Regions from separate parts of the Homo sapiens genome. Here region 2 is linked to region 1. Evidence: fine-mapped expression QTL. Tissue or cell type: blood mononuclear cells. Region 1 holds a variant in brackets; the other region holds the start of a gene. All regions are shown on one strand. Distances are between the middles of the regions.

Region 1 (11,939 bases):
TGCTGTCCACTGGTGTGAATTTTAGACGAGGTAAAAGGGAAGGGTGGGTCTTGACAAGCTGGTATCAAGTACATAGAGGCAGACAAGGACTCTGCCTTTATTTCAGGTACTGCTTCTGAGAAAAATGAGGAAGTGCAGGGAGGAGGGAAGCCGGTTAGTCACTGTGCAGTTTTGACCTACATTTGCAAAGCTGGTTTTTCTGCACCTTTGCCTAGGAAAATGAAGTATAATAAGCTTGATATTGAAAGGGACCTGTGTTAAACATTAAACAAACATGTAAATTTTTTATGTTCAAAGGAGGGTTTAAAAAGAAAGCGGGCTGGGCACAGTGGCTCACGTCTGTAATCCCAGCATTTTGGGAGGCTGAGGCAGGTGGATCACTTGAGGTCAGGAGTTCTATATCAGCCTGACCAACATGGTGAAACCCTGTCTCTACTAAAAATACAAAAAAATTAGCTGGGCGTGGTGGTGCACGCCTGTAATCCCAGCTACTTGGGAGACTGAGGCAGGAGAATCGCTTGGAGGCAGAGGTTGCAGTGAGCCAAGATTGCACCATTGCACTCCAGCCTGGGCAACAAGAGCGAAACTCCATCTCAAAAAATAATAACGAGGAGAAGGCCTTCCAGTTATGGCAGCACAAAGAGGCAGGCAATTTCTTTCTGTAAAAAAAAAAAAAAAAAAAAAAAAGCAACAAACAACCAAAAAATATATAAAACTAGACAAAATTGTTTATCAAAACCAAGCATTTCAGGGAACTGGAAATTGACAAAATGCAGGCAAAAAATTGAGCAGCATTTATTCTTGAAAAACTACTAGATCTTCAGGCAAGTAGGAGATGGTGGCTTTTTTTGCCTGTGGCTGCTCCCATCACCCCCCAGCTCAGCCAATGACTTTTAAGTAAGATGGGGCTGGCCATGAAAACTGCCACACAAACAGATTCAATTCAGAGCAGTGGCTGGGGGGTTGAAAATCCTTGGCTTTGCTGGCTTAACATGGGAATGAACACTTGGAAATGAGCAGGACAAATCCACAGCTTCGCTAGCTTGAGGTTGCAGCCCCACTTGGGGCAAGCAGCAGGCCAACCAGGAATTTAACAGGGGGATTCTGGAAATGAGAATCAGAGAAGTATTGAAGTGAGCTCTTCACGCATCCCTGGCTGACTGAAAAAACTATGCATATATGGAGAAGACCTGAGAGAGCCCAGCAAGGGAGATAAGGGACTTGAAAACTGGCCTTCTCCAACCCCCACACAGAGGGACTGACAGGGGTTGGAAGTGTAATGGGCTTGAAGTTTTCTTTTGTTTTTTTGTTTTTTTTTTTTTTTTGGAGACAAGAGTCTCACTCTGTCGCCCGCCCAGGCTGGAGTGCAGTGACGTGATCTCAGCTCACTGCAACTTCTACCTCCTGGGTTCAAGTGATTCTCCTGCCTCAGCCTCCCAAGTTGCTGAGATTACAGGCACCCACTACCACGCCCGGCTAATTTTTTGTATTTTTAGTAGAGATGGGGTTTCGCCATGTTTGCCAGGCTAGTCTTGAACTCCTGACCTCAAGTGATCCACCCGCCTCGGCCTCCCAAAGTGCTGGGATTACAGGCATGAGCCACTGCGCCCGGCCTCAGAGAATTAAAGAAAACTGTTCAAGGAATTAAAAGAAAATATGATTTAAATGACTCGACAAATAGGGAATCTAAATAGAGAAATACAAACTGTAAAAAGAATTAAATGGAAATTCTGGAGTTGGAAGGTACAATTTCGAATTCACTAGATGGGCTCAATAGCAGATTTTGAGATAGTGGAAGAACTAGTGAACATGAAAATAGACCAATAGAAATGATCCAATTCGAAAAACAGAAAGAAAAATGAAGACAAATGAACAGACCTTCAGACACACATGGGATGATGCTCAATGTCCCCACATACGTGTAATGGAAGCCGCAGAAAGGGAGAGAGAAAAAAATAAAGAAGTAATAGCTGAAAGCTTCCCAGGTTTGATGAAAGATATTGAATTGCAGATTTTTTTTAAAACTCAACCAACACTGAATTTAAAAAACACAAAGAGAACCACACAGGAAGGACAAAGCCAGAAGCATCACACTTCCTGTGTTCAAATTATATTATAAAGCTATAGCAATCAAAACAATATAGTACTGGCATAAAAACACACATAGAGCAATGGAACAGAATTGAAAGCACAGAAATAAACCCACTCATATAAGGTTAACTAATCTTCTACAAGGTGTCAAGAACAAGAATGAGGAAAGAATAGTATCTTCAATAAATGGTGCTGGAAAAACTGGATATCCACATGCAAAAAAAAATAAGGAAATTGGATCTTTATCTTCCACCATATACAAAAATCAACTAAAGGTGGATGAAAGATTTAAATGTAAGACCTAAAATGGTAAAACTCCTAGAAGAAAATATGCAGGGAAAGATACATGACATTGGTGCTAGCGTTGATTTCTTTTTTGATATGACAACAAAAGCACAGGCAACAAAAGCAAAAGTAAAGGAGTAGGATTGCATCAAAGTAAAAAGCTTTTGCATAGCAAAGAAAACCATGAAGAGAGTAAAGATACCCATAGAATGGGAGAAAATATTTGCAAACCATATATGCAATAAGGAGCTAAATCCAAAATATACAAGAAACTCTTACTACTCAATAGTAAAAAACAAATAACCCTATTAAAAAGTAGGCAACAGGCTGAGTGCAGTGGTGCAATCTCGGCTCACTGTAACCTCCGCCTCTCAGGTTCAAGCGATTCTTCTGCCTCAGCCTCCCGAGTGGCTGGAACTACAGGCATGCGCCACCACGGCTGGCTAATTTTTTGTATTTTTGGTAGAGATGGAGTTTTGCCATGTTGGCCAGGCTGGTCTTGAATTCCTCACCTCAGGTGATCCGCCTGCCTCAGTCAGCCTCCCAAAGTGCTGGGATTACAGGCATGAGCCACTGTGCCCAGCCTATTTTAGACTTTTTGATTGCCCTATGATCTCAGTTCTCAAATGAGTTTAGGAAAAGTTATGATTTTGTAGTTTATCTGCTATCGTTGCTGTTAGGGTGTAATACTCATCCCAGCTTTCCGCATCCTGGATTCTTTGTGTTTTAATAATTGTTTACTATAATCTATTTCATATGTTCTAATGTATACAATGCCAATTGATGTTTGCTTTTATGTATTTGCAGTTTTGATTTCTTCTTTGACCCAAAGTTATTTAGTGACTTAAAAAATGTTTAAGGTGATTGAGATTTTTGTAAAAGAAAATATTTCTGTTGTTATAGCATTGTAGTCAAAGAATGTAGGCAATAAATTTTCTGCTTTGAGAAAAAAAAAAAAAAGTGGGCAAAGGACCTGCATAGACATTTCTCTAAAGAAGACATACAATGGCCAAGTGGTTTATGAAAAGATGCTCAACATCACTAATCGTCAGGGAAATGTAAATCAAAGTCACAATAAGATATTACCTTATACCTGTTGGGATGGCTGTTGCCAAAAAATCAAAACAAAAAACAAAACAAGATTGGTGTGGATGTGGATAAAGGGAACCTTTACATACTGTTGGTGGGAATGTGAATTGGTACATCTATTATGGAAAACAGTGTGGAGGTTTCTCAAAAAATTAAAAATAGAGCTACCCTATGATCCAGCAATTTCACTTCTGTGTATATATCGAAAGCAAATAAACTCCCTATCTTGAAAAGATATCTGCCCTCCCATGGTCACTGCAGCTTTGTTTGCAATAGCCAAGATATGGAAACAATCTAAGTGTTCACTGATTGATGAATGGACAAAAAAAATGTGGTGTATATATATATAGAATGGGATATTATTCAGCCTTAAAAAAGAAGGAAATCCTGCTATTTGCAACAACATGGATGAACCTTGAAGACCTTATACTAAGGGAAATAAGCCAGACACAGAAAAAATGCTGTGTGATCTCACTTATATGTGGAATCTAAAATAATCAAACTGGATATAAACAGAATAGAATACCTGTTACCAGGGTTCTGGAGCAGTGGGGGAAATGGGGAGATATTGGTCAAAGGGTACAAACTTGCAGTTATGAGTAAATTTTGGAGACCTAATGTACAGGAGGGTGACTATCATTAATAATAATATACTGGCCAGGCACAGTGGCTTATGTCTGTAATCGCAGCACCTTGGGAGTTTGAGGCGAGAGAATAGCCTGAACCCAAACATTCAAGACCAGCCTGGGCAACATAGCGAGACGTTGTCTCTACAAAAAATTTTTTAAATTGGCCAGGCGTGGTGGCCTGCACCTGTAGTCCTAACTACTTATGAGGCTGAGGCGGAGGATCACTTGAGCCCAAGAAGTTCAGGGCTGCAGTGAACTATGATTATGCCACTGCACTCCACCCTCGGTGATAGGGCGAGACCCTGTCTCTAAAAATAATAGTAATAATAATAAACCTTATATTTGACATTTGCTAAGAGAGTAGATCTTAAGGATTCTCATTACAAAGGAAAGGAAAGGGTACCAGGTAAGGTGATAACTCTGTTAATTAGCTTGATCATACCAATCATTTCACAATGTATACATATATCAAATCATCATGTTATATACCCTGAGTATATACAATTTTTATTTGTCAATTATACCGCAATAAAGCTGAAAAAATATTAAAGGACATCCTTCAGGTCGAAAGAAAATGAGGTTTTAGAGTTATTAAAATGGACAGAAAGAAATGAAGAACGCTGGAAATGGTAAATATGTGATTAAATATCAAAGAATATATATATATTCATGCTTTGAAAAATGTAAAATTGCTTCAAGAAATAATTGCCACACCATTAGTTTATAACCTAGACTTTATATATTCTTAAATCTTAAAAACTTTATAACAAGCCCAAACATAAATATGATATGTACATATATGTGTACACACACACGCACACGTCTCTGCCTGTTTATTAGAGTGGCTTATTTAGTCCATTCATATATATTAATGGCTTATTTTGTGTGTGTGTATGTGTGTGTGTGTGTGTGTGTGTGTGTATGCATGAAGGAAGGGGTAGGAAATAGAGCTATTATAGATGTGTGTGTGTGTGTGTGTGTGTGTGTGTGTATGCATGAAGGAAGGGGTAGGAAATAGAGCTATTATATATTGGAACAAAGTCACTATATTTTATCAGAATTAAGTTACTATTAAAATAGACCATGGTAACTTCAAGATGCATACTATAATCCCTAGACTAGAGCATGCAGTAGGAAAAAAATATATATAGCTTAAAATATGAAAAAAGTAATTAAAATGGTATACTAAAATTACTTGTTAGACATAAATGACAGCAGGAAATGAGGCACGGAGGAACAAAAAAATGCATGAGTGACAGAAAACAAATAGCAAAATGACAACTATAAATATAACCACACCAATAATTACATTAATATGAATGGACTAAATAAACCGTCCCAATAAAAAGGCAGAGATTGTCAACTATGCAAATTCTCAAGGAATTTCCCTTTTATGCATAGTTTTGGGAATGCTAGACTTATATTAATGGAAATAAGCCAAGAAAGAAAAATAAATGGCATCCAAGAAACAGGGGATCCAAAACAAGGAAAAGCCTCTTCTGGAAGCTGCAGCAAAAGGTAGGGTGGGTGGAAAACAAGAAAAAGGCAAAGGGAATTTGTAAGATGGTGCAGAATGCCCCAGGAGGACAGACAGCCAGTTCAATTTTAAAGAGAATATTCTCAAAACAGGTCTCTAGGAATAAAACAGAAATAAGTTATCTGAGGTTAAAATGTCTAGAATTTAATTTGGTCAACATTTGACAGATCTTTTAGCCCTTTGGAGGAAAAACATAGTGATCAGTATTTGGGAAGATAAACAAGTAAAAAAACAATGCAATTATTAACCCCAGAATAAAACAAAAGTGTTAGGCCAGGTGCGGTGGCTCACGCCTGTAATCCCAGCATGTTGGGAGGTCAAGGCAGGTGGATCACCTGAGGTCAAGAATTCAAGACCAGCCTGGTCAACATGGTGAAACCCTGTCTCTACTAAAAATACAAAAATTAGCCAGGCGTGGTGGCACCATCCTTCATTCCAGCTACTCAGGAGGCTGAGGCAGGAGAATCGCTTGAACACATAGGTGGAAGTTGCAGTGAGCAGAGATCATGCCACTGCACTCCAGCCTGGGCGACAGAGCAAGACTCTTTCTCAAAAAAAAAAAAAAGTGTTAGAGAAAACATAACCCATAATACACTACTTGGATCTGCATTCATTCATTCCACAAGTATTTACTGAGTGCTCACTCTGTGTCTGGCCCTGCGGTAAGCTGTGGACTAACCACAATAAGCAAATAGATCAAATCTCTGCTTTCCAGAGGCCCACATTTTAGTGGATGATGACAGATGCTTAAAAAAAAATCAGTCTGCAATATCAGATGGTGATTCATACTTTACAGAAAAGTTACAAGTCTACATAGATTGAAAAGTGGGGCAGGCCTCTATTGTACATGCAGGAGTCACGGAATAAAGTGGCATTTGAACAGAGACCTGAGTAAAGTGAAGGAGACAACTGTTGGCTGCCTGTGGGAACACTGTTCTAGAAGCCACAGACAGTGCAATGTCCTGAAGCAGGAATGGAGTGTTCTCAGCCATTTAAGGGAATGGAAGGGATCCAGTGTGGCAGGGGATGAGTGCTGGGAGAAATCAAAGAGATGGCTCAGGATCGTATATGGCCTTATTGGCCCTGGTAAGGACTTTGGATTTACAGAGCCATGATAATGAAACTAATGATTTCAACAAACGAGTATAATGCAACTGCTATGAAAATAGCAGGGTGGGGAAGAGGGAGAGGCTGTGAGAGAGCTCCAGGAAGTTGGTAGGTGATGCCTGACAATGATGGATTAACAAATGACCACATGCACAAAGCATTAGGTTGGTGCAAAAGTAATTGTGGTTTTTGCCATTACGTTTGCACCCACCCATTAACTACAATGGTGGAGGTAAATACCGGAGGAAACAGCTGAAAGGGTTGAAAGTGGCTTTGCTGGGGGTGAGGAGGGACAGAACATGAGGCTGTTGCTTTTCACTATAAGTCTTTCATACGAGTTGATTTTCTGAAAACTGTAAGCATTTTTTTAAAAGCTTATGAAGTTATTTTTTTTTATTTTTTTTTATTGATCATTCTTGGGTGTTTCTCGCAGAGGGGGATTTGGCAGGGTCACAGGACAATAGTGGAGGGAAGGTCAGCAGATAAACAAGTGAACAAAGGTCTCTGGTTTTCCTAGGCAGAGTGTGTGTGTCCCTGGGTACTTGAGATTAGGGAGTGGTGATGACTCTTAACGAGCATGCTGCCTTCAAGCATCTGTTTAACAAAGCACATCTTGCACCGCCCTTAATCCATTTAACCCTGAGTGGACACAGCACATGTTTCAG[A/G]GAGCACAGGGTTGGGGGTAAGGTCATAGATCAACAGGATCCCAAGGCACAATTTTTCTTAGTACAGAACAAAATGAAAAGTCTCCCATGTCTACTTCTTTCTACACAGACACAGCAACCATCCGATTTCTCAATCTTTTCCCCACCTTTCCCCCTTTTCTATTCCACAAAACCGCCATTGTCATCATGGCCCGTTCTCAATGAGCTGTTGGGTACACCTCCCAGATGGGGTGGTGGTGGCCGGGCAGAGGGGCTCCTCACTTCCCAGTAGGGGCGGCCGGGCAGAGACGCTCCTCACTTCCTAGATGGGATGGCGGCCGGGCAGAGACGCTCCTCACTTTCCAGACTGGGCAGCCAGGCAGAGGGGCTCCTCACATCCCAGACGATGGGCGGCCAGGCAGAGACACTCCTCACTTCCCAGACGGGGTGGCGGCCGGGCAGAGGCTGCAATCTCGGCACTTTGGGAGGCCAAGGCAGGCAGCTGGGAGGTGGAGGTTGTAGCCGAGATCACGCCACTGCACTCCGGCCTGGGCACCATTGAGCACTGAGTGAACGAGACTCCGTCTGCAATCCCGGCACCTCGGGAGGCCGAGGCTGGCGGATCACTCGCGGTTAGGAGCTGGAGACCAGCCCGGCCAACACAGCGAAACCCCGTCTCCACCAAAAAAATACGAAAACCCGTCAGGCGTGGCGGCGCGGGCCTGCAATCCCAGGCACTCGGCAGGCTGAGGCAGGAGAATCAGGCAGGGAGGTTGCAGTGAGCCGAGATGGCAGCAGCACAGTCCAGCTTCGGCTCGGCATGAAAGGGAGACCGTGGAAAGAGAGGGAGAGGGAGAGGGAGAGGGCTTATGAAGTTCTTGATGATGGGTGGGACCCTCATCTGTCAATGTGTAAGATGTGAAACAGCCCTGACAATGTAGCTGGTGCTAGAGGGACGGGCCTGTGTCCAGGGTTGGAATATGCTGTGCAGACCAGGAATGCTTTACATTCCGGGGTGGTCTTTTCTAGATCACTGTCTCAGTCTGCTTGTGCTGCTACAACAAAATACCACAGACTGGGTAACTTATAAAGAACAAATTTATTTCTCACAGTTCTGAAGGTTTGGAGGTCCAATATCAAGGCACTGGTATGTGGTGTCTGTTGAAGGCTGTAGCCTCACATGGCAGAAAGGGCAAAAAAGGGAAGCAACTCCCTCCATTCAGCCCTTTATAAGGGTGCTTAATCCCATCCACAAGGGAGGAACCTTCATGGCTTAATCAGCTCTTAAAGGCCCCACATCTAATACTATCACACCGGCAACACCTGAATTTTGGAGGGGACCCATTCACACCATAGCATTCCAATCCTGGCCCCCCAGAATTCACGTACTTCTCACAAACAAAATACATTCATTCCACCACAATTGCCCTCAAAAGCCTTAAATCATTCCAACATGAACTTTAAAATCTAAGTCCAGAATCTTATCTAAGTCAGGTGTGAGAGAGACTCATTCACTTTGAGATAAATTTCATCCTGAGGCAAATTTCTCTCCAGCTGTGAGCCTGTGAATTCAAATGAGTTGCGTACTTTGATTCAAATACAATGGCGTGACAGGCACAGGACAGATGTTTCTAGTCCAAAAGGGAGAAACAGGAAGGAAGAAAGGAGTAACAACAGGTCTCAAGTGAGTCCAAAACTCAACATTAGATCTTAGGCTTGAGAATAATATTATCTGACTCCATATCTCACCTTCTGAACACACTGGGGTGGGTGTTGGGCCCCCAAGGCTCCAGGTGATACCACCTCCAAGGCTTCCCTAAGTATTGGCCTACTGGGGGCTCTCTGCAGTGGCTCCACCCCGGTGACAAATCTCTGCTCGGGCCCTGAGGTCAAAGAAATCCTTTCCATCGAGGTGGAGGCGGCCGTGCTCCCACAGCTCATACAGTATGCATACCTACAGAGTCAGCACCACATGGATGCCACCAAGATTTATAACTTGCGCCCTCTGGAGCAGTGGCCCAACCTGCACCTGGTCCTGCTTGAGCCACAGCTAGGGTGACGGAGGAATGCTCTGCTGGAAATGTGGGGAGCAGAGACCTGAGGTGGCCCTAGGCAGTGATCTCTGAGACCCCGCAGGCGCCTGGGCCCTTCCCCTGAAACTGTTCTGCCGCAAGGCTCTAACCCTCTGGGCCTCTAATGAGCAAGGCAGCCCCAAATGCCTTTGGGGTCATTCTCCGAAATGGCTTTGGAGTCATTTTCCGAAATGACTTTGGGGTCATTTTCCCGTTCTCTTGATAACTAGCACCTGGCTTCCTTCTACACATACTAACCTGCTTATCAGTCCTGTGGCCATACCCGTGGTTTTCTCTCCTACACACACGTTTTTCTCTTTTTCATGGCTAGGCTGAGAATTTTTCAGATATTGACCTTTAGCTTTCCTTTTGATGGTAAATTCTGCCTTCAAATTATTTCTCTTTTCTCACGTTTTTTTTTTTGTTGATGTTGTTGTTGTTTTTGAGATGGAGTTTTGCTTTTGTCACCCAGGCTGGAGTGCAATGGCGCGATCTCGGCTCACTGCAACCTCCCTCTCCCGGGTTCAAGCGATTCTCCTGCCTCAGTCTCCCGAGTAGCTGGGACTACAGGCTCCTGCCACCGCGCCCGGCTAATTTTTTTATGTTTAGTAGAGACAGGGTTTCACCATGTTTGTCAGGCTTATCTCGAACTCCTGACCTCAGGTGATCTGCCTGCCTCGCCCTCCCAAAGTGCTGGGATTACAGGCGTGAGCCACCGCACCTGGCCTCTCATGTTTTTCTATAAGCAGTTAAGAGAAGCCACACAGCATCCTGAACACTTTGCTTTCTATCTCTTCTGCCAAATATCCTAGGTCATCATTCTTAAGTTCTGCCCTCCATGAAGTCCTAGGAAACGACATAATTCAGGTAAGTTCTTTACCACTTTCTAACAAGGATAACCTTTCTTCTAGTTTCCAATACCTTGTTCTTTATTTCTGTCTGAGACCTCATCAGAATTGCCTTCACCATCGGTATCTCTATCAACATTCTGTTCATGACCACTTAGGCAATCTCTAAGAACGAGGCTTTCCCCACAGCTCATATCCCACATCTACAGCTCTCCTCTTCTTCTGAGCCCTCACCAGAATCATCCTTAGTGCTCCGTTCATGGCAATCCAGGCTTTTTTCAGCACTCACTTCAAAGCTGTTCCAGCTTGTATTCATTATCCAGTTCCAAAGCCACCCCCACATTTTTACATATTTGTTATAACCCCTGGTTATAAATGTTATAAACTCCTCTGGTACCAATTTCTGTCTTAGTCCCTGTTGTGCTGATATCACACAATACGCAGACTGGGTAATTTATAAAGAACAACAATTTATTTCTCACTGTTCTGAAAGCTGGGAAGTCCAAGATCAAGGCAGCAGCATCTGGTGTCTGCTGAGGGCTGCATCCTCACATGCAGGAGGACAAACAGGGGACCAGCTCCCTCCAGCCAACCCCTGTATGAGGGAGGGCATCTGCTCCTAGTTCAGGAGGGAGGGGCCCTCATGGCCTAGTCCCTTCTTAAAAGTCCTCTTCTCGGCCGGGTGTGGTGGCTCACACCTGTAATCCCAGCACTTTGGGAGGCCGAGGTGGGCAGATCACCTAAGGTCAGGAGTTCGAGAAAAGCCTGGCCAACATGGTGAAACCCCGTCTCTACTAAAAATATAAAAATTAGCCAGGCGTGGTGGCGGGTGCCTGTAATTCCAGCTACTCGGGAGGCTGAGGCAGGAGAATCGCTTGAACCTGGGAGGCAGAGGTTGTAGTGAGCCAAGATCGTGCCACTGCACTCCAGCCTGGGTGACAGAGTGAAACTCTGCCTCAAAAAAAAAAAAAAAGTCCCCTTCTCTTAATGCTATCACCTTGGCAACACCTGGATTTTGGAGGGGACACATTCAAACCACAGCAATCACCAACAACTGGTATTTTTCTCCCACCCTACATATTCTTTAGGTAACCACCCAGGCCAGTGGGGAAAATAATCAATCTACTTCTGAATAAATCCTAGCTATAGTTTCATGCTACTGCAAATGGGATAACAGCAAATCATGCCTGAAAATTTTTGGAATAAGGTGATGTTTACATCGTTATGCTGATTTTTACAAACTGTGAATCATATTGACCAGGTTCATTTGTACTAGACCACCACACCAAAACTTTATAAAATTATTTTCCAGTTGGGTGAAAAATGATGTTGTGCTTTCGTTTGCCCATCTCTAATTTCCGGGAGATTTATAATTTGTTTGTATTATTTTGTGAATCATCCGTTCATGTCTTCTGCCTATTCTTCTACGGTCTTTTTCTTATCAATTTGTAAAGACTCTAATGTAATAGCCAACTGCTACAAGCATGTTTCTGATTTGTTGTTTACCTTTTGATGTTCTTGATATTAAAAGATGCTTATATAGCTGAACGTTTTTCTTTTCTAGTTCCCCCCTTTATGTTTATGGCTTGGAAGTTTTCTCTATCTGAGATCAATAAATATTACCTATCCTCCTCTTT
Region 2 (11,939 bases), 31 kb before region 1:
ATACCACCTCACTCCTGCAAGAATGGCCATAATCAAAAAAACAGTAGACGTTGGTGTGGATGCAGTGAACCAGTAACACTTCCACACTGCTGGTGGGAATGTATACTAGTACAACCACTATGGAAAACAGTGTGGAAATTCCTTAAAGAACTAAAAGAATTATCATTTGATCTCGCAATCCCAGTACTAGGTATCTACCCAGAGGAAAAGAAGTCATTATTTGAAAAAGATACTTGCACATGCATGTTTATAGCAGCACAATTTACAATTGCAAAATTGTGGAACCAACTCAAATGCTATCAACGAGTGGATTAAAAAAACTGTGGTGTGTGTATATATATATATATATATATATACACACACACACACACACATATACACGTATACATATATATACATATATACGTGTATATATACATATGTGTGTGTGTGTATATATATATATGTGTGTGAGTATATGTGTGTGTGTGTGTGTGTGTGTGTGATGGAATACTACACAGCCACGAAAACGAATGAATTAACAGCATTTGCAGTGACCTGGATGAGACTGGAGATTATAATTCTAAGTGAAGTAACTCAGGAATGGAAAACCAAACATCTTATGTTCTCACTGATATGTGGGAGTTAGCTATGAGGATGCGAAGGCACAGAATGATACCATGGACTTTGGGGGTTTGGGGAGAAAAATAGGAGGCAGTCAAGGGATAAAAGACTACAAATATGGTGCCTTGTATACTGCTCAGGTGATGAGTGCACCAAAATCTCACAAATCACCACTAAATAACTTACTCATGTAACCAAATACCACCAGCACCCCAATAACTTATAAAAAAAATTTTTTTAAAGATAATACAGCAATAGTCAAGTGGGTTTCATACCAGGAATGCAGGGATATACAAGTCAATAAATGTAATATATCCAGTAAACAGAATTAAAAACAAAACTCATATTATCCCAATCAACGCAGAAAAAGCATTTGACAAAATTCAGCATTGCTATATGATTAAAACCCTCAGAAAAATTGGCATGGAAGGGACATACCTCAAGGTAATAAAAGCTATCTGTGACCAACCGACAGCCAACATTATACTGAACAGGGAAAAGTTGAAAGCATTCCCCCTGAGAACTGGAACAAGCCAAGGATGCTCACTTTCACCACTTCTATTCAACATAGTACTGGAAGTCCTAGCCAGAGCAATCAGACATGAGAAAGAAATAAAGGGCATCCAAATCAGTAAAGAGGAAGTCAAACTATTGCAGTTCACTGATGATAAGATTGTATACCTAGAAAACTCTGAAGATTCATCCAAAAGGCTCCTAGATTGGATAAATGAATTCAGTAAAGTTTCAGGATACAAAAATCAATGTTCACAGGTCAGTAACACCACTAAATACCAACAGTGACCAAGATGAGACACAAATCAAGAACTCGATCCCTTTTACAACAGCTGCTATATGTATTATATATATTATATATTATAATGTTTTATTTTATAATATATAATATGTTATTTCAGCATTGCTTTATGATTAAAACCCTCAGAAAAATTGGCATGGAAGGGACATACCTCAAGGTAATAAAAACTATCTATGACACACACACATATATATATATATAAAACCAAGCAGGTGAAAGACCTCTACAAGGAAAACTACAAAACACTGCTGAAAGAAATCACTGATGACACAAACAAATGGAAACACATCCCATGCTCATGGGTAGATTCAATATTGTGAAAGCTGTCAAAAGCAATCTACACATTCAGTGCAACTCCTATCAAAGTACCATCATCATTCTTCACAGAACTAGAAAAAAAAATCTAAAATTCATATGGAACCAAAAAGGACCCCTCATAACCAAAGCAAGACTAAGCAAAAAAAAAAAAAAAAAAAAAAAAAAAAACATCTGGAGGCATCGCATTAACTGACTTCAAACTATCCTACAAGATTTATACCAGTACCAAAACAGCATGGTACCAATATAAAAATAGGCACATAGACCAATGGAACAGAATACAGAACCCAGAAATAAAGCCAAATACTTACAACCAACTCATCTTCAACAAAGAAAGCAAAAACACAAATAGGGAAGGGGCACCCTATTCAACAAATGGTGCTGGGATAACTGTCTAGCCACATACAGAAGAATGAAACTGGATCCTCATCTCTTACCTTATACAGACATCAACTCAAGATGGATCAAACACTTAAATGTAAGACCTGAAACCATAAAAACTTTAGAAAATAACGCTGGAAAAACTCTTCTAGACATTGGCTTAGGCAAAGATTTTAAGACCAAAAACCCCAAAGCAAATCTAACAAAAACAAAAATAAATAGATATTACCTAATGAAAACACTTCGGCACAGCAAAATAATCAGCAGTGTAAACAGACACCTCACTGAATGGGAGAAAATATTCAACTATGCGTCCTACAAAGGACTAATATGCAGAATCTACAAGGAACTCAAATCAGTAAGAAAAAAAGAAATAATCCCATCAAAAAGTGGGCAAAGAACATGAATAGACAGTTCTCAAAAGAAGATACACAAATGACTAACACATGAAAAAGAATGCTCAACATCACTAATTATCAGGGAAATGCAGATTAAAACCACAATGAAATACCACCTTACTTCTGCAAGACTGGCCATAATTTACAAAGTCAAAAAATAGTAGATGTTTGCATAGATGTGATGAAAAGGGCACTTTTACACTGATGGTGGGAATATAAACTAGTACATCCACTGTGGAAAACTTTATGGAGATTCCTTAAAGAACTAAAAGTAAAACTACCATTTGATCCAGCAGTCCCACTATTGAGTATATATCCAGAAGAAAAGAAGTCATTATATGAAAAAGCCACTTGCATCTGCATGTTTATAGGAGCAAAATACACAATTGCAAAAATATGGAACCAGCCTAAATGCCCCTCGACTGACAAGTGGATAAAGAAAATGTGATATATTTACACCATGGAATACTACTCAGCCATAAAAAGGACTGAAGTAATGGCATTTGCAGCAATTTGTACGGGAGTTGGAGACCACTATTCCAAGTGAAGTAACTCAGGAATGGGAAACCAAATATCGTGTATGTTCTCACTTATAAGGGTTTGCTGAACTATGAGGATGCAAAGGCATAAGAATGATATAATGGGCCGGGTGCAGTGGCTCACAACTGTAATCCCAGCACTTTGGGAGGCCAAGGCAGGCGGATCATGAAGTCAGGAGATTGAGACCATCCTGGCTAACATGGTGAAACCCTGTCTCTACTAAAAATACAAAAAATTAGTCGTCGTGGCACGCGCCTGTAGTCCCAGCTACTCAGAGGTCTGAGGCAGGAGAATCGCTTGAACTTGGGAGGCAGAGGTTGCAGTGAGCTGAGATTGCGCCACTGCACTCTAGCCAGGGCGACAGAGCAAGACTGTCTCAAAAAAAAAAAAAAAATACATACATACATACATATATATATATATATATATATATATATATATATATAATGGACTTTGGGGACTCAAGGGAAAGTGGGAGGAGGGTGAGGGATAAAAGACTATACATTGGGTACAGTGTACACTGCTCAGGTGATGAGTACACAAAAATCTCAGAAATCACCACTAAATAACTTATCCATGTAACAAAAAAATGACCTGTTCCCCAAAAACTATTGCAATTTTTAAAAATGTAAACATTAGCCATGCGTGTTGATGCACACCTGTAGTCCCAGCTACTTAGGAAGCTGTGGCAAGAGTATCTCTTGAGCGTTGGAGGTCGAGGCTACAGTGAGCTATGATTGCACCACTGAACTTCATCCTGGGCAACAAAGTGAGCCCGTCTCAAACACACACACACACACACAACAAAAAATTGGTTTTGTCCTGGTACCTGGTTATTATAATTTGAAGCAGAAATTATTTTGTTTAGATTTTTTAATATTAAGAAGCATCTCCGTCGGGCGAGGTGGCTCACACCTCTAATCCCAGCACTTTAGGAGGCTGAGGTGGGCAGATCACCTGAGGTCGGGAGTTCAAGAACAGTCTGACAAACATGGAGAAACCCCGACTCTACTAAAAACACAAAATTAGCTGGGCATGGCGGCGCATGCCTGTGATCCCAGCTACTCAGGAGAGTGAGACACGAGAGTCACTTGAACCCAGGAGGCCAAGGTTGTGGTGAGCCGAGATCGCGCCATTGCACTCCAGCCTGGGCAACAAGAGCAAAACTGTCTCAAAAATAAAAAGTAAAAAAAAAAAAAGCATCTCTACTCACCATTAACTATACAATTAAGAGGTCACACCTTTGTTTCATCATCGTAGACAAGGTAAATATTACTAAAGAAAATGCCTGTCCATAAAAGGGATCTGGTGACAGAGGACAGCCTCTCCCAGAGTAACAGGCATCCAGGACTCCACTCTATCAACGATTTCTAAAACAATGGGTGTGAGCAAGGGCTAGGATGAGATGTGTGATTAAGTTCCTGAGCTGACGGCAAATTTAAAAGATGCCCTCTCAGCTCCTGGCTGCGGCCCATCCTCCCTGTAAGGTGCACGACTCCATGACGCTTTTCACTGACGGCACTACCTCTTGGCCATTACCACCTCCCACCAGATCCCATTCGCTCTGTTTTACCAGGGAAAGGTCTGCTCCAGTTAATGCCTTATCCTTCACAGTGATGTTCTTTGACTTTATAAAAACGGAGCCATTTGGTCAACAGGCTGCCCGTCGGATCCCGTGTCCTTCTGCACTGCTAATATCTAGCTGTGGCCCTGCTTTAAAACCCAAATGCAAACATCTCTTCCATGAAGCCCTTCCTGATTGCCAGTGCCCTCAACAGTGGAATAAGCTGCCAGGCATCTTAGAGATCTAGACCCGTGGTTCTCAACCCCCACTTCCCCAGGCCTCCTGAGAAGCTTTTAATAGGTGCATCAGCCCTGGATTCTTACCGGCAGGACTGAGAGGGAGCCTTAACGCTTGTGTTCTTCTAATAGTGTGCACAGGGTTGACGGGAAACACACACACACACAGTGCAGAACCATTCCACGAAGCTGTGTATCCGGAATTGGTTCCCTCTGAAGAGTTCCTGGTCCCGGTCCTGCCGCGGACCTTCACGGCATTATAGTTCTTAAACATGGTGTGTCCGGAGTTTGTTCCTTCAAATGTTCAGGTGTGTCCGAAGTTTTTTCTTTCTAGAGAGTTCGTGGTCTATGCACGACTTGATGAGTGAGGCCGCGGACCTTCGCAGGGAGTGTTACAGCTCTTAAAGGTGGCGCATCCGCGTTGTTCCTTCCTCCCAGCGGGTTCGTAGTTTCGCCGACCTCAGGAGTGAAGCCACAGACCTTCGCAGGGAGTGTTACACCTCTTAAAAGTGGTGCGTCTGGAGTTGTTTGCTCCTCCCTGTGGGTTCGTGGTGTCGCTGACTTCAGGAGTGAAGCCACAGACCTTCACAGTGAGTGTTATGGCTCTTAAAGGTGGCGGCTCCAGAGTTGTTTCTTGTGGTGGCTTCCTGGTCTCGCTGGTTTACAGGAGTGAACCTGCAGACCTTCACTGTGAGTGTTAAAGCTCATAAAGGTAGTGTGGACCTAAAAGGTGAGCAACAGCAAAATTTATTGCAAAGAGCGAAACAACAAAACCCCAACACCATCGAAGGGGACCCAAACGCAGCTGCCGCTGGCTCGGATGGCCAGCTTTTATTCCCTCATTGGCCCCGCCCACATCCTCCTGATTGGTCCTGCCCACATCCTCCTGATTGGTCCATTTTACAGAGCGCTGATTGGTCCATTTTACAGAGTGCTGATTGGTCCATTTTACAGAGTGCTGATTGGTCCGTTTTTACAGAGTGCTGATTGATGTGTTTACAAACCTTTAGCTAGACATAGAGCATTGATTGGTGCATTTACAATCCTTTGGCTAGAGAGAAAAGTTCTCCAAGTCCCCACCAATTAGCTGGACACAGAGCACTGATTGGTGCATTTTTACAGAGTGCTGATTGGTGTGTTTACAAACCTTTAGCTAGACACAGAGTGCAGATTGATGCTTTTACAATCCTTTAGCTAGACAGAAAAGTTCTCCAAGTCCCCATCCGACCCAGAAGCCCAGCGGGTTTCACCTCTCAGTAGCTTACAGAAGAGGACCCTGCTGCCACAGCACAATACCACAAAGAAAGTCATGCTCTCCTCAGCAGGTAGCCCCCTTCTCCGGGACAGGAACTTTGTTTCCTTCTTAGCTCTATCGCCAGCACCTAGAACAGTGCCCACCTGTCAGATCTGTTATCAGATGGGAACATGGCAGATTTGTTGAATGAATGAAGGAATGAATGAACTATGTGACACTCAAACTTAGCCACCAAACTTAAACTAAAAAAACTGGGTTGTGGTCCCTGATGGACCGTTGGCACCTTCTTCCTTTGCTGGACGGTGATCCGTGGCTGTTTCTGCGGTGTGTTCGCAGTGGTTGCCTGGCTTGGTAACAAACACTCTTCGGAGCCACAGCCTGTTCTCAGGGTCCTCGCCGCCTCCCAGGCCCTGCGATCTCTTTGCATCTCAGGAGGTCCAGGTTGGTTGCAGTCCTCTTGGGTGACTCAGGAACCAGCCTCTCCTGAAGCACACAGCTTAGGGAGTTCCTGAGGCCAGAGACATCTCCACGGGAAAGTCAAAGGCCTGGAGGAAGTGCGGACCTGACGACAGATGCCCCGCACGCTGGCCGGGACCGGGAAGGGCGGTCAAGGGTGGAAAGGGGCTGGCGGCTGCCAGGCCTGGCGGAGTGGAGCGGGGCGGGGCGCAGCGGGGCGGGGCGGGCCTGGAGCTGCACCTGCTTCTGGGCGGACGCACTTGGCGCGCGGCGCGGGCTGCAGACGGCTGCGAGGCGCTGGGCACAGGTCAGACGTCCGTACCCGCAGGGGGCTCGAACCTGGAGGAGGGCTCGAAGGGAGAGGGGGCCCCGCCAAGGAGCGGGGCTGTGATGGAGAGGAGGTTCCGACTCGCAGGGGACCTGCGGGGGAGGGGACGCGGACAGGGAGGGGCTCTGGGACAGGGGTGAAGGCTGCGCTAGGGGAGGACGGGAGGGGATGGAGGGCCCTGGTGTCGCGGAAGCCCAGCTGGGGCCCCCTCCGGGCTGCGGAACCGGTGCGCACACTACTCCCACCGCCCCCGAGTGCCTCTGTCCGGCTGGCCGCGGCCCTGGAACGAATATTGCTCAGTCCCCCGCGAGTCAGGTCTGCCGCGTTGCCCGGTGAGGGGAAGGTGTGAAGCCCCGGGCCTCCGTCTGCCCGGTGAGTCCGGGGACGCGCGCCCCCGGGGATGCCATCTGGCTCCTGGGCTGTGACCAGTCACAGCTCACATAGCTCTGGGCACTGGTACCGACTGCCTTTCCTTGTTAGCTGCGATACACAAATACACGAGCCAGATCCTTTCCTGAGGCCAGGAAGCCTGGAATCTAATAACACCGGGCGGTGGATAAAGTCCCCCGAGCCAGTGCTTAGCTTCCGTTAATGGAGCCATGGATGGAAGCGGATGTCAGGCGCAGTGGGGGAGAAATTTGCGGGGGTGGCCCTGTCTAGGGCCAGAGAAACAACCTCTGAAGCTTTGATCCAGCCCTAGAGGGAAGAAAGATGTGAGTTTCAGCCAGGGAAACGTAGCACTTTAAGAAATAGAAACCCTTTCAAAATTTGAGGGCAGGTAGCTCTCCTAAAAGTTGCAGAAATGGCCACTTCTTTTTTTTTTTTTTTTTTTTTTTGAGACGGAGTCTCGCTCTGTCGCCCAGGCTGGAGTGCAGTGGCGCAATCTCGGATCACTGCAAGCTCCACCTCCCGGGTTCACACCATTCTCCTGCCTCAGCCTCCCGAGTAGCTAGGACTACTGGCGCCCGCCACCACGCCCGGCTAATTTTTTGTATTTTTTTTTTTTTTGGTAGAGACGGGGTTTCACCGTGTTAGCCAGGATGGTCTCGATCTCCTGACCTCATGATCCACCCGCCTCAGCCTCCCAAAGTGCTGGGATTACAGGCGTGAACCACCGCGCCCAGCTAGAAATGGCCACTTCTTTCACGTTCTCTTCGACCGCTTTCTGCGGTGTCTGCCCTTTTCCTCCTCCTGCACCTTTTTGTCTCCTAGGGTCGCATAGCCTTCCAAACAGGCCTGCCTACAGCATTTTACCTGCAATTTTACACTCATTTTAATAGAAAGGATGGCTTATTGTTCATGAGAGACGTGTACTGTTTTTAACCAGATGTGTAATATCTTCAGTATAACCTGGATGTTGTGCAGTGGGAAGTTATGGAAAGAATCAGGACACGTGGTTAGGTAGGGGCCCAGGGGCGTCAGACTTAGCTCTTTGTGACAGTGAGCTTCTTGGTTTAATAAGGATATTGGCTCCCTCTGTTCCTGGGGTTTCTGGGAAAAGATATGGAACTGATATGAAGGTTTTATTGAATATGGCCCACTGATTTTACAAGTGGAGGTGACTGAGATAAGCAGAAGGTGAGGCATGACCTCTGGCTGTGCATTATTTGTTCTGATATTACAGGAGCCAAGCATTCCATTTCCTTCTTTTTAAAGAGCTTTGATTTCCTCTCACATCTTCATGAAGATGGAAACAGTGCCCCCACTTACTTATCCTCAGGCCACACCTGTTCCCATTTATTCCATGAGTTCCTCCCACACCCTTCTGGTTGATGTTGGTTGTGATGGTCGAGGTAATTGAATCTCACATTTGGCACCAGTTATTTCTGTTTCTCATCTCCCCCCTACCTGCAGTTAAACATCAGCTGCTATACTTAACTGTTCAAAGTACAGATGTTACCTGTGTTGGGTGTAATCAAAAGATTATCTCTTTTCCTCAAATGAAAAATGGGTGAGGACAGTTTCACCACACATAGAGTCACTCCCCTAGCCAAAGTCCTTGCTATTGCAAAACTTTTTACTGTAAGAGAATTAAAGTCACTAGTGTGTCATCAACTAATGGTACTTATAGACACATTCCATATTTGTTTCTATAGAAAGATCATAAGACAAACACTAGATTATTCCCAGTATGAGACCATACTGAATATGAACAATTAGAGGCCACAGGTGAGTGCTGTCCTCCTCACACTTTCTTTGAACTCTTAAGCTTCTACTCTTTTAACCAGCTACCCCTCTCCCCAAAACCTTCACTGAGGCTAGAAACAAACACAAATAGACTATTTGAATTTTAGCAAATTTTATCTCTCTTTTCTATTCTCTTGTGTAAAACTTAAATGGCCACAAGCTACACTACTGGAGGAAAAAGGAAAGCTAAAAGGTCTATCAGCCTTCTGTATGTGATGCAGAGTTCAACTGAATATAGCAAGGTACACACCCGCATTCTCCTTGCCAGGACTTAGATATCATAAGCCATTATCTTGCTGGTTGTTGAAATCATAATGGGGCTTTATAGAGCACAAGGCGATGTTTGTAAACAGCACTGTTCAGGTCAGATTAGAATCCGTATTTCAAAAATGAGGAGATGGAAACAGAGATATTGTGTATGTGGTCCAGGGTTAGCCAGTAATTAAATGGCAGAGCCAGAACTCAAACCAACATTCCTTCCAGAATACCACAGCTGCCTCTGGAGTGGTTTTTGTTGTTCTTGTTGAATTTTGTGATGGAAGATTGTGATTTGTTTTTCCCGAACACTTAATATGTTTTCTGACTTGAATTATCAGAATCTAAATTTAGAAACTCTCTCGTTTGGTATATTTCATGCCCATCTTTGTTCCATATAATTACAAAAATATCTTAGAGCTGAGTATAACCTTAAAGATTGTCAAGTCCAATCTTGTGGTTTTTCAAGGAAGAAAACCGGATTTAAGAAAAATAAAGCAAGTACCTCATGTTGCTTCCCCAAATCTACTTCATTGGAGAATTACAGCTAAAAACAATGTTCAGATTTTTGCTCCTTCTGTCATGTGGTCCCTTGAGAATTTGCCAAATGTATAAATCCAGTGACTTATTTTGATGTACTCTTTTGGTTTGAGGTCTGTGACAGCAAACATAACCTCCTTGAATCCCAGCCTCAAATGCCTATGGACCTTCTGTTCTAACTGTTATTATAACTGTAGCCGTTATTATAGTGGCTAAAGTTCTAACTTCTGTTCTAACTGTGCTCCTGGTTCCATGACAAAGAGAGCTTTACTTGTCTTATTCCTAGCACAGTGCCCATAGCAGGCATACATAAAATGTGGTATGTCAGATAAACATCTGAAAAAGTGTGAGATGTCATTAGACGTTCATTCAGCTACAAGAACAGAAAACCCTACTACAGCGGCTTAAACAAGTAAGGAGTTTGTTTTTCTCAGAGAACGAGAAGTCTGGAGGTGAGAAGGCTGGGGCTGGGAAAGGGGTTCCGATATGAACGTCATCTGAGACAGGCTCCTTGTGTCTTCCCGCACCACCCTCCTTAGCATGGAGCTTTCATACTCACTTCCGCAAGTTGCAGCAGAAAGACGGGCAGAGGCATGCTCCAGAAGAGTCTTGTCTTGTCTTTTCTTTTCTTTTCTTTTCTCTCTTCTTTTCTTTTCTCTCTCTCTCTCTCTGTCTCATCTCTTTCTTTCTTTTGACTCAGAGTCTCTCTCAGTGGCACAATCTCGGCTCACTGCAACCTCCGCTTCCTGGGTTCAAGTGATTCTCCTGCCTCAGCCTCCAAGTAGCTGGGATTACAGACGTGCACCACCACGCCCAGCTAATTTTTGTATTTTTAGTAGAGACGGGGTTTCACCATGTTGGTCAGGCTGGTCTTGAACTCCTGACCCTGTGATCTGCCCCCCTCGGCCTCCCAAAGTGCTGGGATTACAGATGTGAGCCACCACGCCTGGCCTGTCCTTCTTTATAATAAATAATAATAATAACAGCTTTTCTGGTAGCCCACCCCAAAAGACTTCTTACATGTCATTGGCCAGAACCATATCACATACACACTGTTAACGGTGACGGAACCAGAGAGAATCTAGTGTTTGAGACAGACACGTTGCCAATACATCAAAATAAGAATTTTGGGCCAGACACAGTGGCTCACGCCTGTAATTCCAGCATTTTGGGAGGTCAAGGCGGGTGGATCACCTGAGGTCAGGAGTTCAAGACCAGCCTGGCCAACATGGTGAAACCCCATCTCTACTAAAAACACAAAAAATCAGCCGGGCGTGCTAGCAGGCGCCTATAGTCCCAGCTACTCAGGAGGCTGAGGCAGGAGAATCGCTTGAACCCAGGAGGCAGAGGTTGCAGTGAGCCGAGATCATGCCACTTGCACTCCAGCCTGGACAACAAGAGCGAAACTCCATCTCAAAAAAATAATAATAACAACAAAATAGGAATTTTGTTAATAAGGCGGGGGGAGAATGAACATTGGGTAGGCAGCTAGCAGCATCTGCCATAGTGTGTTTTATGAGTCATAGATCCTGTCTCTAAATAGGTTGTTATTTGTTTTGGTTTTTTGTTTGTTTTACTAAAAAGCAATGGGTAATGCAGTGGGTCCAGGGGAACTTTTTTAAATGGTAGAGTGCAAGGACCACTCTGAGAACTGCTGATTATGTAGGTCTGGGCTGGGTCTATAATTCTCCATTATGGACGGGCACGCCAGGTCATCTGAGGGCAGGTGGTTGCGGGAATACATTTTGAGAAACACCGAATGTCAGGTAGTTTAGCAAAAGCGACTTTATTTTATTTCTGTTAGCTTTTTGCCTCACTCCTCTTGAGGGTATACTTTATTTTTTAATTATCTGCTTTGGTCAACATAAATCAATGTATAGTCTTAGAAGTCGTTCATTGTAGAAGGTTTTCATTGAGTTTATACTGAGTATAGAACCCTAGCGGCAATTACTTTCAATGCTTTGGGTTGTGTTTTTCTGATATTACCATATTCTAAATAGCATGCAGATACGGGCCATTTCTTCTTCTCTTTTCCAGTTCTGGATGACATCTATTGACATCCTA

Evidence for each region.
Region 2: TMEM45B starts here. The variant in region 1 is fine-mapped to the expression of TMEM45B in blood mononuclear cells (TOPMed, PIP above 0.99).

Annotation. Positions count from the first base shown.
Region 1 is chr11:129,840,284-129,852,222 of GRCh38, forward strand. All of the region lies in intron 1 of TMEM45B (transmembrane protein 45B), which reads left to right. Among named protein-coding and RNA genes, the nearest start is that of TMEM45B, 30 kb to the left of the region's middle. The variant A/G (reference allele first, on the strand shown) is at 7,404.
Region 2 is chr11:129,809,027-129,820,965 of GRCh38, forward strand. TMEM45B (transmembrane protein 45B) reads left to right here and starts at 6,822. Exons shown (of 6, transcript NM_138788.5): 1 at 6,822-6,872. It overlaps LOC124902793 (a long non-coding RNA gene), which reads right to left and starts at 5,661. Exons shown (of 2, transcript XR_007062952.1): 1 at 4,942-5,661.